Homo sapiens: one gene and its partner. The protein of the gene in region 1 interacts with the protein of each later gene in a biochemical or structural test. Each region holds a gene or a part of one and is shown in the gene's direction. Other genes may lie near its edges.

What was found. Proteins that work in one complex are often made in the same cells at the same time.
Region 2: the proteins of TOLLIP (region 1) and TOM1 form a complex in vitro, tested with the Homo sapiens proteins (3 studies listed by BioGRID and IntAct, with this or other methods).

What each region holds. Positions count from the first base shown.
Region 1 is NC_000011.10:1,306,620-1,313,502, reverse strand, and holds the start of TOLLIP (toll-interacting protein), read left to right. Parts: upstream 1-3,870; 5' UTR 3,871-4,004; coding exon 4,005-4,037; intron 4,038-6,883. UniProt on the Homo sapiens protein: Component of the signaling pathway of IL-1 and Toll-like receptors. Inhibits cell activation by microbial products. Recruits IRAK1 to the IL-1 receptor complex. Inhibits IRAK1 phosphorylation and kinase activity.
Region 2 is NC_000022.11:35,296,070-35,302,904, forward strand, and holds the start of TOM1 (target of Myb1 membrane trafficking protein), read left to right. Parts: upstream 1-3,824; 5' UTR 3,825-3,859; coding exon 3,860-3,911; intron 3,912-6,835.

The sequences.
Region 1 (6,883 bases):
GAAAGTATAAAACTACTAGAAGAAAACACAGGAAAAACACTTAAGGACACTGGTCTAGGCGAAGATTTTATGGCTAAGATCTTAAAAGCACAGGCAATAAAAACAAAATAGACAAATGGGACTATATTAAACTAAAAAGTTTCTGCACAGCAAAGGGAATTATCAGCAGAGTGAGGAGACAACCTGCTGAATGGGAGAAAATATTTGCGAAGTATTCATCCAACAAGGGACTAATATCCAGAATATACAAACAACTCAACAGTAAAAAATCAAAAAATCCCACTTAAAAGTGGGCAAAGGACATGAATAGACATTTTTTTTTTTTTTTGAGAAAGAGTCTTGCTCTGTCGCCCAGGCTGGAGTGCAGTGGCATGATCTCAGCTCACTGCAACCTCTGCCTGCCAGGTTCAAGCAATTCTCCTTCCTTAGCCTCCCAAGTAGCTGGGATTACAGGCATGTGCCACCACGCCAGGCTATTTTTTTTTTTTTTTTTTTGTATTTTTAGAAGAGACAGGGTTTCACCATGTTGGCCAGGCTGGTCTTGAACTCATGACCTCAAGTGATCCACCTACCTTGGCCTCCCAAAGTGTTGGGATTACAGGCATGAGCCACCACGCCCAGCCTGTATGTCTTCTTTTTAGAAATTTGTAGGCACTCTTAATACATTTAGACTAACTCTGTCATATATATTGAAAGTGTTTTCTTTTTGTCATTAACCTTTTATTGAGATAAAACTTACATACATACATCAGAATGCACAAATCATAAGTTTACAATCATGTGAGTTTTGATAAATTTACACATTGGTATAACCACTCCATCCCAATCAAGGTATATAATCTTTCTACCACCCCAGAAAGTTCCCTCATGGTCCTGTCTAGTCAATCTCCAGTCCCTCACTTCCAACACACATAGATAACCACTGTTCTGAAATACATCGCCATATCATTTTGCAAGAAATTTCAATTGACATATAATTTTTTTTCTGTTAGCACTTTAAAGATGTCACTCCATTCACATGACTTACCTTCTTTCCAATGAGAAGTCTGCTATTCTAATCTTCATTCTTCTGGATGTAATGTGTCATTTTCCTCTGTCTGCTTTTAAGAGTTTCTCCTTGCTTTCTGTTATCAGCAGTGTGAATATGACCTGACTAAGTGTTTTGTTTATTTGTTTGGAATCCATTGCTTCCTAAATATTTTGTTTGGTGCCTACCATTAACTTGGAGAATTATTGGCCATTATTTCTTCAGATTTTCTGCCTCATTCTCCTTTTTTCTTCTGGAATTCTAATAATGCTTAAGTCAGATCACGTGGCTGTAAGCTTAGTGGCTTAAAACAACACACACTTATCTCAGAGTTTTTGTGGGGTAGGAGTTCAGGCACAGCTTAGCTGGCTTATTCTTGGGTCTTACGAGGCTATAATTAAGTTGTCAGCTGGGTTGCATTCTCATCTGGAGGCTTGACTGGGGAAGGATCAAAGCCCCCTCAGATTCCTGGCAGAATTTGTTTCCTTGAAGTTGTAGGAATTATGGCACCTCGCCTCTTCAAAGCCAGCAGCTGAGAGACCCTTGAGAATAAGTCTGAGAGCAAGATGGAGTCTTTTATAACATCAGGTAATCATGGGAGGGACATCCCATCACCACTGCCATATTCTGTTGTTTAAAAGCAAGCCACAGGCTCTGTCCACCCTCAAGACAAGAGGATTATTCAAGGATGTGAACACCAGGAGGCAGGGATCATATGTCTACCTTACAACCTGTCCACCCCATAGGGGAATAATATTAAGGCAAGAGCTGAATCTAGTGTTTAGCGGAGGTCCTGGTGGGAGATACAGATTTTAGGATCATCAGCATATGGATGGCATTTAAAGGAATGGAACTGGATGAGCTCACTGAGGATGTAGATAGAAAAGATGTGCAAGGACTGAGCCCTGAGGTAAGGCACTCCGATGTTAAGGAGTCAAAGTGTTACCAGTGTGCCCTGGCATCTTGTAATCTCCCAGGATAGAAATAAAGAGAGATCAGCAGACATAGCAGCGAGGAGAAAGAGAAATCTTTATTTAGCTTGTGCACAAGGAAGTCAGCACCATGAAAGGAAAACGGTGGGGGGCCCCGCCGCCAGGGGGTGGCACGTGGGTTAGTTTCACAGGGAAGGGATTGGTCCAGGCATGGATAGGAGGGGTTTGTCTAGTGCTTCTCAGTAGCTTTGCATGCTTCTTCATGCATTGCATGCAACATTCACATTTTAAATCTCTACCCCTAGGTGTGATTTTTAGCGTGAAAATGAGGAAGGGGTAACAATAGTTGAAGTATAAGTCTAACTGCACATGTGGGGCCCGGGGAAGTCCCTAGGCCCCCAAAGCAGGAACTTGTGGTTAATAGCTTCTTGGGTCTTGTGCTGTGGATTGGCTGGATGTTAAGCTACAACTTGAGGAAGGGGCTTTCGTTCTTTTTCTCTACACCCCATCAAAACAGGCAAGCGGCCAGGCTGCCGGTTTTAAAAGGAGAGACTGGTAACCGAGACCCAAAGATGTGGTCTTTGGGATAAGAGGAAAGTGAGAGCACATGGTGTCCTGGATGGGGAGTGAAGAAAGCATGTGTAGCAAGAATGACTATCGATTTTGCTGTAGTTCCCGGAGGACGAGGACTGAGAACTGACCACTAACAATATAGAGATCACTGACAAAGAGTTTTTAGTGGAGTGGTTGTGTTACCGGAAAAGGGTCCTGATCCAGACCCCAAAAGAGGATTCGTGGATCTTGTGGAAGAAAGAATTCCAGGCCAGTCCACAGAGTAAAGTGAAAGCAAGTTTATTAAGGCAGTGAAGGAATAAAAGAATGGCTACTCCATAGAGCAGGGTGTTCCCAAAAGCACGAGGAGGAAGGCGTCCACCTGGGTACGCTTGTTTATATGTAAGATAAAAGCCAAAAAACATCACGGGGGAGACGTGCTGTACTACCTGGGCTCGTCAAAGGATTGCCAATCTTTGCATAACGCCTGTCCTCCGCAAGCATCTGTATCATTATCTTTAAAGCGAAACTTCAACTAAGAATGCTTCTTGTTCTTAAGATACCCGGACATCGGGACCTAAGTTCCGGGTCTGCTGCGTAAAAGTTTATTAACCTGTTCCCGTGACCGTAAACGCCCGACTCCTGGGGATGCAGCCAGCGGGGTTCAGCCTCAGTTTACCCAGCGCTGTTCGAGCTGGAGTCGCTCTGGTTGGAGCGCCTGACCGCGAGGGCCGAGGTCAGGCCGGACTGGGGTTCTCCGGAGCGAGCAGGAGAGGAGCGGGGCTCCTGCGGAGCGGCGCGGCGGGGAGGCCGAGGGCAGGGCGGGCTCGAGCTCGGGCTCTTCTGGCAGCGCCTCCATCCCCGTTCCGTTCACCCGGCAGCCGCCCCGTGGAGGAACCGCGCCCCATCTTTAGCCCTGTGAAACAGAAAGGCCCTTCCTCCGGCAGGCAGCTGAGGGAAAGATCGCCCTGCAGGGGATGTCGGGCCTGTCACTGCTTTGTTGCGGGCCACAGTTCCCTCCCTTCTCCGAGCGGGTCGCACGTCCGAAGGTCACCCCCGCCAGGTGGCTAGGCCCTGTCGCCACTCGACAGAGGACCGAGGAGGAACCAACCCACTGCCCAGACTGCAGCGCCGCCACGCTAGGGCCCGCGCCGACAACCGTCATGACTGGGCATGCGCAAACGGCCCCGCCGGGAGCCATTTCGCCGGGCTGCAGGGCTCGAGGAGAGAGCAGGTGCGCAGGCGCCGGGCGAGAGGCTGCGCCTGCCCTACCCTGGAGCGCGCGTGCGCGCGAGAGCCGGAAGGGGCGGTGCCTGGCGCGGCGCCTGCGCAGTGGGGCGGTGCCGGGGGCGGGGCGCGGCGGCTGTCAGCTGACTGTGGCGGCGGCGGCCTCGAGGTGACAACTGTCTCCGTCGCAGGCTCCGGCGGGGGCGCAGGAGGTCGCCCGGCGCGTCACTGTCGGGTCGGCGAGCCACGGGGGCCGCCGCAGCACCATGGCGACCACCGTCAGCACTCAGCGCGGGCCGGTGAGGCAGCCGGGCGAGGGTCGGGCGGGGGCGGTGACCTGCGGTTGCGGGCGGGGCCTTGGGTCAGGGCTACTGCTCAGCTGCGGCTGGCGGGCCGACTCCGCGGCTCTCCCGGGGCACGCGGGGCGCCTGGCCGGCCGGAGGGGAGCGGCGGCGTCCACACCTCGGGGCGGGGCGGGCCGGACGGACGCGCCCACGCTGCAGGAGGCTTGAGCTCACCGCCGTGCCGGGGCAGAGCTTTGGGGAGGCAGCCCCGGGGGAGGGGGCCTGCGCCCGTTGTGAGCCCCAGATGGAGGCGGGCCCCGTGCCCCATGGTGCCCCAGAGGGAGGCAGGCCCCGCTCCCCAATGGTCTCCAGATGGAGGAGGGCCCGGTGCCCAGATGGAGGCGGCCCCGAGCTCTGACTCCCGAATGGAGGAGGGCCCCGCACCCTAATGGTCCCCCAGGTGGAGGCGGGCCCTGAACCCTAATGGTCCCCTAGATGGATGCGGGCCCTGCTCCCTGATGGCCCCCCAGGTGGAGGCGGGTCCCGCACCCTGATGGCACCCTAGATGGAGGCGGGCCCCGCACCCTGATGGCCCCCCCAGGTGGAGGCGGGTCCCGCACCCTGATGGCCCCCCAGGTGGAGGCGGGCCTGCACTCTAGTTGGTCCCATAGATGATGGCTGTTTCCTCTTTCTCATTTACACAGAGTGAGGGCAGTGGTGACCACTTCTTGGGCCCAATTGTGTCCCCGGTTAGTGGCCACCGTGCAAAACCTCAGTTTCTTCATTTGCAAATGAGAGGATAGGCGCCAGGAACTTCAGAGAACCTTTCCTGCTCTGAATTCTCTCCTGAGAGTTGCCTGGCAGTTTCTTCTATAGCATTAATATTGCAGGAGAGCTGGTGTAGACTGACTCAGAGATGATGGGCTCCTGGCGTGAGTGGCCTCCTGGCTCACTGTTAGGGCCTTCTTGCATTGCTGTAAAGGAATACCGAGACTGGGTAATTTGTAAGAAAAGAGATTTAATTGGCTCCCGGTTCTGCAGGCTGTACAGGTAGCATGGTGCCGGCATCTGCTCCTGGGGAGGCCTCTGGAAGCTCCCAGTCATGGCGGAAGGCCAAGTGGGAGCTTACACGTCACATGGCGAAAGCAGCAAGAGAGTTGGGGGTGGGGAGGTGCCACACACTGTAATGACCAGATCTTGTGAGAACTCACTATCACCGGGACAGCACCAAGCCACGAGGGATCTGTCCCTGTGACCCACACACCCACCCTGCCAGGCCCCACCTCCAACATTGGGGATCATAATTCAGCGTGAGATTTGGCGGGGACACAGATTCAAACCGTGTCACTCACTGAGGCTGGGCTGGGGCAGGCTGTCGTGAGCGGTACAGTTTTTATCAACAGTGGCTCTGAACATGCCGTGGGTGGAAAAAGTCCTTTTTCACGATGCTCCAAGGTCCCTGCCCTCGCGCAGCCCAGTACTGGACGTGGTGGAGGGGTCACCAGGGCTCCCCACCCTTAACACTGTATCCACAAGTCCTGGTGTTTCTCCCGAGGAGATAATTCTTCAGGTAGAACATTTTTTCTGAGTTTAGAATGAAGCCCCAGGTTTTGGGCATAGCTGCTTTTTCTGAGGACTTTGAAGGAAACCTCCTGACACTTATGAGACTCAGGTGTGGAGCCTACGGGTCGGCAGAGGTCCTGGACGGCCTCTGATGGCAGCGTCTCTACCTCTTCATCTTTACTCCACCACAGTGAGTCCCCGCAAGTTGCCGTGGCAGCCAAGTGCTCCTTTCTGCCTAACAGGAGACTCAGAGCAACAAGGGAACCAGCACCCTGCTGTTGTGTCCTCCTGGAGAGCAGGGGGGCATGGTGGCCAGGCAGGATGGCCCCTTCCTTGCTGTGTGGTCTGGGAGACATCCTCTGCCTCCTGGGAACTTGTTCCTCATCTGGAACCCCACTGGGGTGTAGGACTGATTTTGAATGCATCAGGTGCTGAGCAGGCAGGGAGCAGTGGGAGGCAGGCCCTTCCTGTTCTGAGGGGCACCGGCGTGCAGCGCTGTTACACCCGCGATGAGGAAGTGGGAGCGGCAGGAGATGTTCTCACACGCAGGGCCTGTGCTGGCAAGTGCTGAGGTGTCGTTAGAATCTCCTCTTGCCCAGTGCCTCCTGGGCTGTTTCCATCATGTAGACGAGCAGGTATTTCAGGGGCACCCCCGTTGACCGGTAAACGCATAGTAACATGAGGTCTGGCTCGGAGCTGCCAGGGTCTCTTAAGAAGGTGTTGTCAGCGACGGGGGTCTCAGGTGTTGCTTGGAGTACATGTGACTTAATCAACCAGCGCTACCAACTGTGGCGTTCAGGATGGCCATGATGCAGGGGACAACCAGGTGGTTCCTGCCACTGGGGTCTTCCAGGGCAGCACGGTAGACATGGCAGCACATAAGGACAGCTGAGCTGTGTGGTGACGGCCCGGTGGGTCTGTGATCTTAAGCGTCAGGTGCTGGGAGAGTTTGTAAATGGGCCTCACCAGGGCTGGGTGTTGGGGTGAGGACGTGACATCTCTCGGAGGAGGAATGGGAGTAGGGGTTGGGCTGGGAGGGCAGGGCACGGAAAGAGAGGTGTGGGGTCTGGAGGTGGAGAGGAGGGAGCCCCAGGGGCCGAGGATGGAGGGAGGCAGGAGCTGGAGGCCGCCGGAGGGTCCTGGGCACAGGAGGACTGGACTTGCCCTGGAGTTTACCGGCTCAGCGCAGCACTCTGTAAAGTGTTGCCTGGCACACGCAAGGCAGGGCCCGCCTTGGCACCAGCCTGCTTCGCTGAGCATGACCCACCCCAGCCCCTCTGAATTAACCCATAGTGGGC
Region 2 (6,835 bases), on another chromosome or scaffold:
AATGAAACTATGTGCATTATGGTGTTGGCCTAAATCAAGAAAATGTTGATTAATCTTATATAAGGGTTGCATCTGAATCATGTGCTAAATGATATGTTTCAGTACTGTCCTGTTAGCATTACAGTAATGCTGTTGATAAGTTACTTAATCTTTATAGGCTTCCAAAGTCCCATCTATAGAATAGTGTTAAAGTCACTTCCCTGTCTGTAGACCTGCAGCCAGCCAGCCTGACATGAATGTTTAATAACATTATGAACACTGAATATATGGAGATATGACCTTTCAAGGTAAAAACTTCAGTGCAAACACAAGGTGTTAAAAGTCATAAATAGTAAAATAATATGATTAATTACAAGGCTAATGTCTTATGGAAAGGCAGCAAGGAAGAGACTACCGTATCACTGAGTGACTATTAGAGTGATTTGCATACTTTGTCTCACTCATCCTCCGCCCAAAGCCTTAAGAATATTATCTCCCTTTATAGATGCGAAAAAGTACTTTTCCTAAGTTTATACTGCTAGTAAATGGCAAAGGCAGATTAAGAACAGTGAAACAGCTGACCCCAAACCCTAGGCTCTTTTCTACCCCAAGCTACTTTCAGATTTAAATCATGTCTATAATTCATCAGAATGCTTTCCATTATCTCAAGTCCTGAGCGAATGTGATTGTGGGAATGCTGTCTCAGATCTTTGCATTGTTCGGGTATCTAGCTGGCTTTCACTCTTGTCATACTATTGTCTTTAAATTTTGAAGGCAAGGTATCTTGATTTTTGTCTGTAAGCACTTAAAGGATTTAATAGATTACATTTATGCAGACTGTCAATCTTAAGAAATTTGAACATTTTAACCCTCAGTAAGGCATGATATTAATTTTACTAAAACACTTAAAAAGTAAATTGAAACACTTTTTACTAAATCAGTTTGCTCCTTATTAGCACACTTTTTAAAGACAGTTTTAATCAGTTTTGTACTAACTTTAATGTTTGCCATTTACATCCCTATCTACTATGTTGATAAAATCCATATACTGGCCAGGTGCAGTGGCTCGTGTCTGTAATCCCAGCACTTTGGGAGACTAAGTCAGGAGGATCATTTGTGGCCAGGTGTTTGAGACCAGCCTGGAGAATATAGCAAAACCCCATCTCTACAAAAACTAAAAGATATTAGCCAGGTATGGTGGCATGCATCTGCAGTCCCACCTACTCAAGAGGCTGAAGTGGGAAGACACTTGAGCCCAGGAGATCAGGGCTACGGTGAGCTACAGTTGTACCACTGTACGCCAGCCTGGGTGACAGAGACTCTGTCTTTAAAAATAAATAAATAAATAAATCCATATACTTCCATTTCTGTTTCAATAGCTATATAGTAATCAGTTTGCATGGAGTTGTTTTTCTTTTTTTTTTTGAGACGGAGTCTCGCTCTGTCTCCCAGGCTGGAGTGCAGTGGTGCAATCTCTGCTCACTGCAAGCTCCGCCTACCAGGTTCACGCCATTCTCCTGCCTCAGCCTCCCGAGTAGCTGGGACTACAGGCGCCCACCACGGCGCCCACCACCACGCCCAGCTAATTTTTTCTATTTTTTTAGTAGAGATGGGGTTTCACCGTGTTAGCCAGGATGGTCTTGATCTCCTGACTTCGTGATCTGCCTGCCTGGGTCTCCCAAAGTGCTGTGATTACAGGTGTGAGCCACCGTGCCCAGCCTGCATGGAGTTTATGATTCCACTTCCTGTTTGGGGGCATATGAGTTGTCTCTGTTTTTGTTTTTTTTTGTTTTTTTTTTTTTTTTTTTTTACCATGAATAAAGTTTACAAGAACTTGTTAAAAGCTTAAAGGAAGGGCCAGAGATGGTGGCTCATGCCTGTAACCCAGGGCTTTGGGAGGCTGAGGTGGGAGGATCACTTGAGCTCAGAAGTTCAAGGACCAGCCTGGGCAACATAGTGAGACTTTGCCTCTAAAAATAAATAAATAAAGGTTAATGGAAGAATCCAAAAGAAGTTCATGCTAAACATAACTCCATATGACCAAGCAATAAGGTTAAGTGAAGAAAGACATGGAAAGTGCCTTGACCTGAAGGTCATCTTAAATGGCCTTCTCCCCGCTTATACTCCAAATACCATTACTGAAACGTAGATCTATTTAAGCTTTCATGTGCTAGTTACTGGGTTAGACAATAGTGGGGAGCAAAACAGAAATAGTAGCCCAGCCCCCAGGGACATCCAGACTCGTGGGGGCAAAGGCATTTGTGAACAGGTCTCATGAGTGTTGTGGAAACACTTCAAAGCAGTTTTTATATTGTACAGTAAAGACATCGGACCCCATGGCTGCTCAAACAAGTGAATCTACAGAGGTGATTAAGTTCTAATTTAGGTTTGTTTTTTTTTTTAAGACACAGCCTTACTCTGTCACCCAGGCTGGAGTGCAGTGGCACGATCTCAGCTCACTGCAATCTCTGCCCCCCTGGGTCCAAGCAATTCTCATGCCTCAGCCTCCCAAGTAGCTGGGACTACAGGCGTGTACCACCACACCTGGCTAATTTTTGTATTTTTAGTAGAGACGGCATTTTACCATGTTGGCTAGGCTTGTTTTGAATGCCTGACCTCAGGTGATCCACCTGCCTCAGCCTCCCAAAATGTTGGGATTACAGGCGTGAGCCACCACACCTTGCTTAATTTAGGTTTTCTGTCATCCAAAATTTGTGCAGTCAATTTACTAGCCTTTCAGATTTAAAAACCACAAACATCACAATAAGTACTTAAGCACCCACAGTAGCCAGACTACTAAGGCCATGGTTATTGTATTTTTGGAGTACATGCCAGAAGAAAAGGTCATAACCCATAGATAGGTATCTAGTGTGTAGGTGTCAGCAGACACACCACACACAGCCAGGAAGGCTGAAGAGATTAGAATCACAACGCTGGGAAAGGCCTTTGAGATTCTTAGCTTGGGGTCCACGGTTGTACTTCAGGGACCCCAGAAACTCCCTGAGGTTATAAGCAAAATTGTATCGCTGCCTTTTTTCTTCAGAAAGGCTCATGGCTTTTGTCAAATTCTCAAAGGAGACTGTGACCTAAATAAAATATTTTTTAAAAATGGTTACGAGTCCTTGATCTAATTCCAGTATCTAGAGAAAATGGGAGCTATGTTTGGCTCACACAGTAAATTTATGGCAGAGACGGGTATTAAAGCCCCACTCGTGACTACATCTGTGCTTTTTGCCATCCTGGGCGCTAGAGGGAATTGCGCTGCAATTCATTAAATTGCCTCTCAGTCTCAACAGATGACAAACCCCTTGCCCTTGCCTCTGATTTAAGGTAAGATAATTTGGGCTGCGAGCAGGGTGCATCTTGGAGCGGGGAGACCTTGACATCAAACAGGAAGAGTCTTACCGGGACAAGGAGACAACAGCCCAGAGAGGCTGTCACCCAGGGTAGGTGTGCAGTCACAGTGAGGTCCCAAGGACTAAGGGCTATGACCCTAAGAGTCTCGGCTTCTGTGTAACTCACCCAAGTCACTTCCCTGGTCTACGACCCAGTTTCCCAAATGTGTAAAGGGTCCTTTAGACCTCGCCCTAAAAGGTCAGGGGCGTGGCTTAAAGAGGACCGCGCTTCCCGGGCCCCGACCCCAGACCCTACATCGTGTGTGACGCCCGCCGCCGCCGAGCAAGCCGCAGTGAGGTCATCGCCCTCCGCCTCGGGGGCGGGACCCTGGCGTCTCAGGGCGGGGCTTGTGGTCGAGCTTCGCGGTGCCACCGCCCCGCCCACGCCTCCTCGCCGGCCTCCGAGTGCGTCACGTGACGGGTCGGTGGCGCTGGCGGTTGCTGTCAGCTGATTCCCGGGGTTGGTGGCAGCGGCGGTAGCAGCAATGGACTTTCTCCTGGGGAACCCGTTCAGCTCTCCAGTGGGACAGCGCATCGGTGAGTCCCTGGAGCCCCCCACAGCTCCGCCCCGGTGCTCCGCACCCAGCTTCGGTCCCCTGGGAAGCCTCCGGGTGCCTAGTCACGGAGGCAGGGAGGGCAAGGAGGCTGGCGTGTAGCTCTCCGACCTGGCTCCGCCCAGCTTTCCTCCCACTCTTGATTGACAAGAACTTGGGCCATTAGGAAGCCTTGGCTTGTGATAGATGTATATGACAGCCAGTAGGTAAGGAGAGAGGGTGGGTCCGGATGCCCACGGCGCAGCCAATGTGCGTCTGCTGGGGTCCCCAATCGAGGGAGAAAGTTTTCGTGGTTAAAGGGACTGCGTGGTTGGCAGTGGCTGGGCCACTCTGCTGGGTCCCGCCGCCTGGGCTCTGGCCAGCTCCTTCCTGGCTCACCGGGCCCTCCGGACACAGACACCTGAGAAGGGCTAGAAGTCCCTTCTCCCAGGACCGCGAAGCCCCGGGCTTGGCGTCTTGGGGCCAACTGGCCAGAGGGGCCCAGCGCCGGACAGCCCGCGGCCAGGCCTCACAGACCCGGGTCTCAGGACGTGTCCGCCTGGGCTCTTTTCTCGACCCAACCTCAAATGGACCCGCACAGACTCTCAGAACCTGAGCAGACAGTGGTCGGACAAACCCTCCTGGTCAGCCCATCTCGGTGCTCCGTAGGTGGGGCAGCCGGGAACTCGGGCCAAGCCAAGCCCAGGGCACCTGGCGCCTGTCTGCTGGTCCGTGGTTCTCTGCACCCTGGTGACAGGATACTCACAGTTCTGTGACGCAGCCTCCCTGGGCCGAGGTTTCCTCACCTGTAGTTGGCGGGCAATAATGGTCCCCACCTCCGTGGGCTTGTTGTGAAGATTAAATTCCTTAATAAATGTGAAATACTTAGAACAATGCCTGGTACATGGCCAGTGCCATATAAAAAAAAACAGTTGTAATATTTATTATCACTGGGCTGGGCACGGTGGCTCCCGCCTGTAATCCCAGCACTTTGGGAGGCCAAGGCGGGCAGATCGCTTGAGCCCAGGAGTTCGAGACCAGCCTGGGCAACATGGCGAGACCCCGTCTCTACAAAAAAAAAAAAAAAAAAAAATACAGAAATTAGCCGGGCGTGGTGGTGCGTGCCTGTGCACCCAGCCACTCGGTAGGCAGAGCTGGGAGGATTTATTGGATCTGGGAGGTCAGGGCTGCAGTGAGCCCTGATGGCGCCACTGTACTCCAGCCTGGACGACGCAGGGAGAGCCCATCTCTTGAAACACATACACATACACACACACACACGCACACATATATATAAAAATATACACATACAAACATACATATACATACACATACATATATATTATATGTATTTACACACACACGTTGTTCCTGAGATCACCAAGTGAAGGTTAGGAATCCCTGGAAATCGCTTGGCAGTAGATCTCATAGGTGCTCATTCTTGGGCACCAACACCATGAGAACCGACATGCCTTCACCCAAACAGCCACACTTCTCCGGAGGATGGTTTGGGTGTTCCGCATTCTTGCATGAAGAAACCATCGCATTACCGTGAAATTACTCTTCATCTTTTTTGATGACGACTTTTCGTCTTAAGTCCAGACTGGGAAAACTTTAAGATGAGACATATTTTCCATTCTTAGTGTCTTGCGAAACCTCACGAAAGCTTGTCGACCCGGCTCTGTGTTGTAATCGCCACCGTGGCTGTCGGTGGCTCTTCCGAGGTTTTGTAATCAATGCTCTCCAAGGGGGAGGTGGCAGTCCAGGATTTACACACCAGGAAGCTCCTGAACCAGGGAGAGGAACTGCCCTCTCAAAGGACCCCTGCCCTCCCCGGACACACACCCACCCCACAGTGAGTCATGGTTTTTTGGAGCTGAAAAGAGAAGGCAGCTCTCCTCTCATCTATATTTCTCTGACTACAGAAACCACTGCTTTTATCACATGCCAAGTTTAAGACTTACTACTTAAAAATAAACAAGTAAATAAAAGACCTGGCTTCAAAGTCAGCCACATACTCTTAAGGCTTTCTGGAAAAGCTCACCTGGGTTCTGGATTTCAGCTAATCAAAGCAAACTTCTCTTCTTACCTTGAAGCGTTGCCTTTCTTGGGCAAGAAATACTTCTGTGCAAAGAGAATGCTACTAAATCATAATACCTTAAAGCACAAATGGAATTTTGCAGGTAAAAGAGCCTTACCTTGGGGATCTTCTAACCCAGTGGTTCTCATCAGAATTCCTAGGAGGGCTTGTTAAATAATGTCGGGGCCCCAACCCCAGAGTTTCTGACTCTCCAGGTCTGCGGTGGGACTCTAGAATGTGAATTTCTTTTTTTTTCTTTTTCTTTTTCTTTTTCTTTTTTTTTTTTTTTTTTTTTTGAGACTGCGTTTCGCTCTTGTTGCCCAGGCTGGGGTGCAATGGCACCATCTTGGCTCACTGCAACTTCCGCCTCCCGGGTTCAAGCGATTCTCCTGCCTCAGCCTCCCAAGGTAGCCGGGATTACAGGCACGCTCCGCCACACCCGACTAATTTTGTATTTTTAATAGAGATGGGGTTTCTCCATGTTGGCCAGGCTGGTCTCAAACCTGAACAGGTGACCCACCCACCTCAGCCTCCCAAAGTACTGGGATTACAGGCATGACCACCGTGTCCGGCCTAGAATGTGAATTTCTGTTGAGTTCCCGGGTAATGCTAATGCTGTTCCAGCCCATCCCCTTCATTTTACACTGGCGGAGACTAAGGTCCAGAGAGGGGAAAGTGGAGGCTGTGACTCATCCAAGACCCCAGTAAATTGACAGCAAAACTGAGTCATTGAAATTTAAACCAAAGCTGAAGAGGCTCCAAAAGTAGAATTAAGAGTTTGAGTTAATCCCCTCAGTATTCCATATTCTTTTAGATAAAGAGGCGGAGGAAGTACTGCTCCCTGGCTG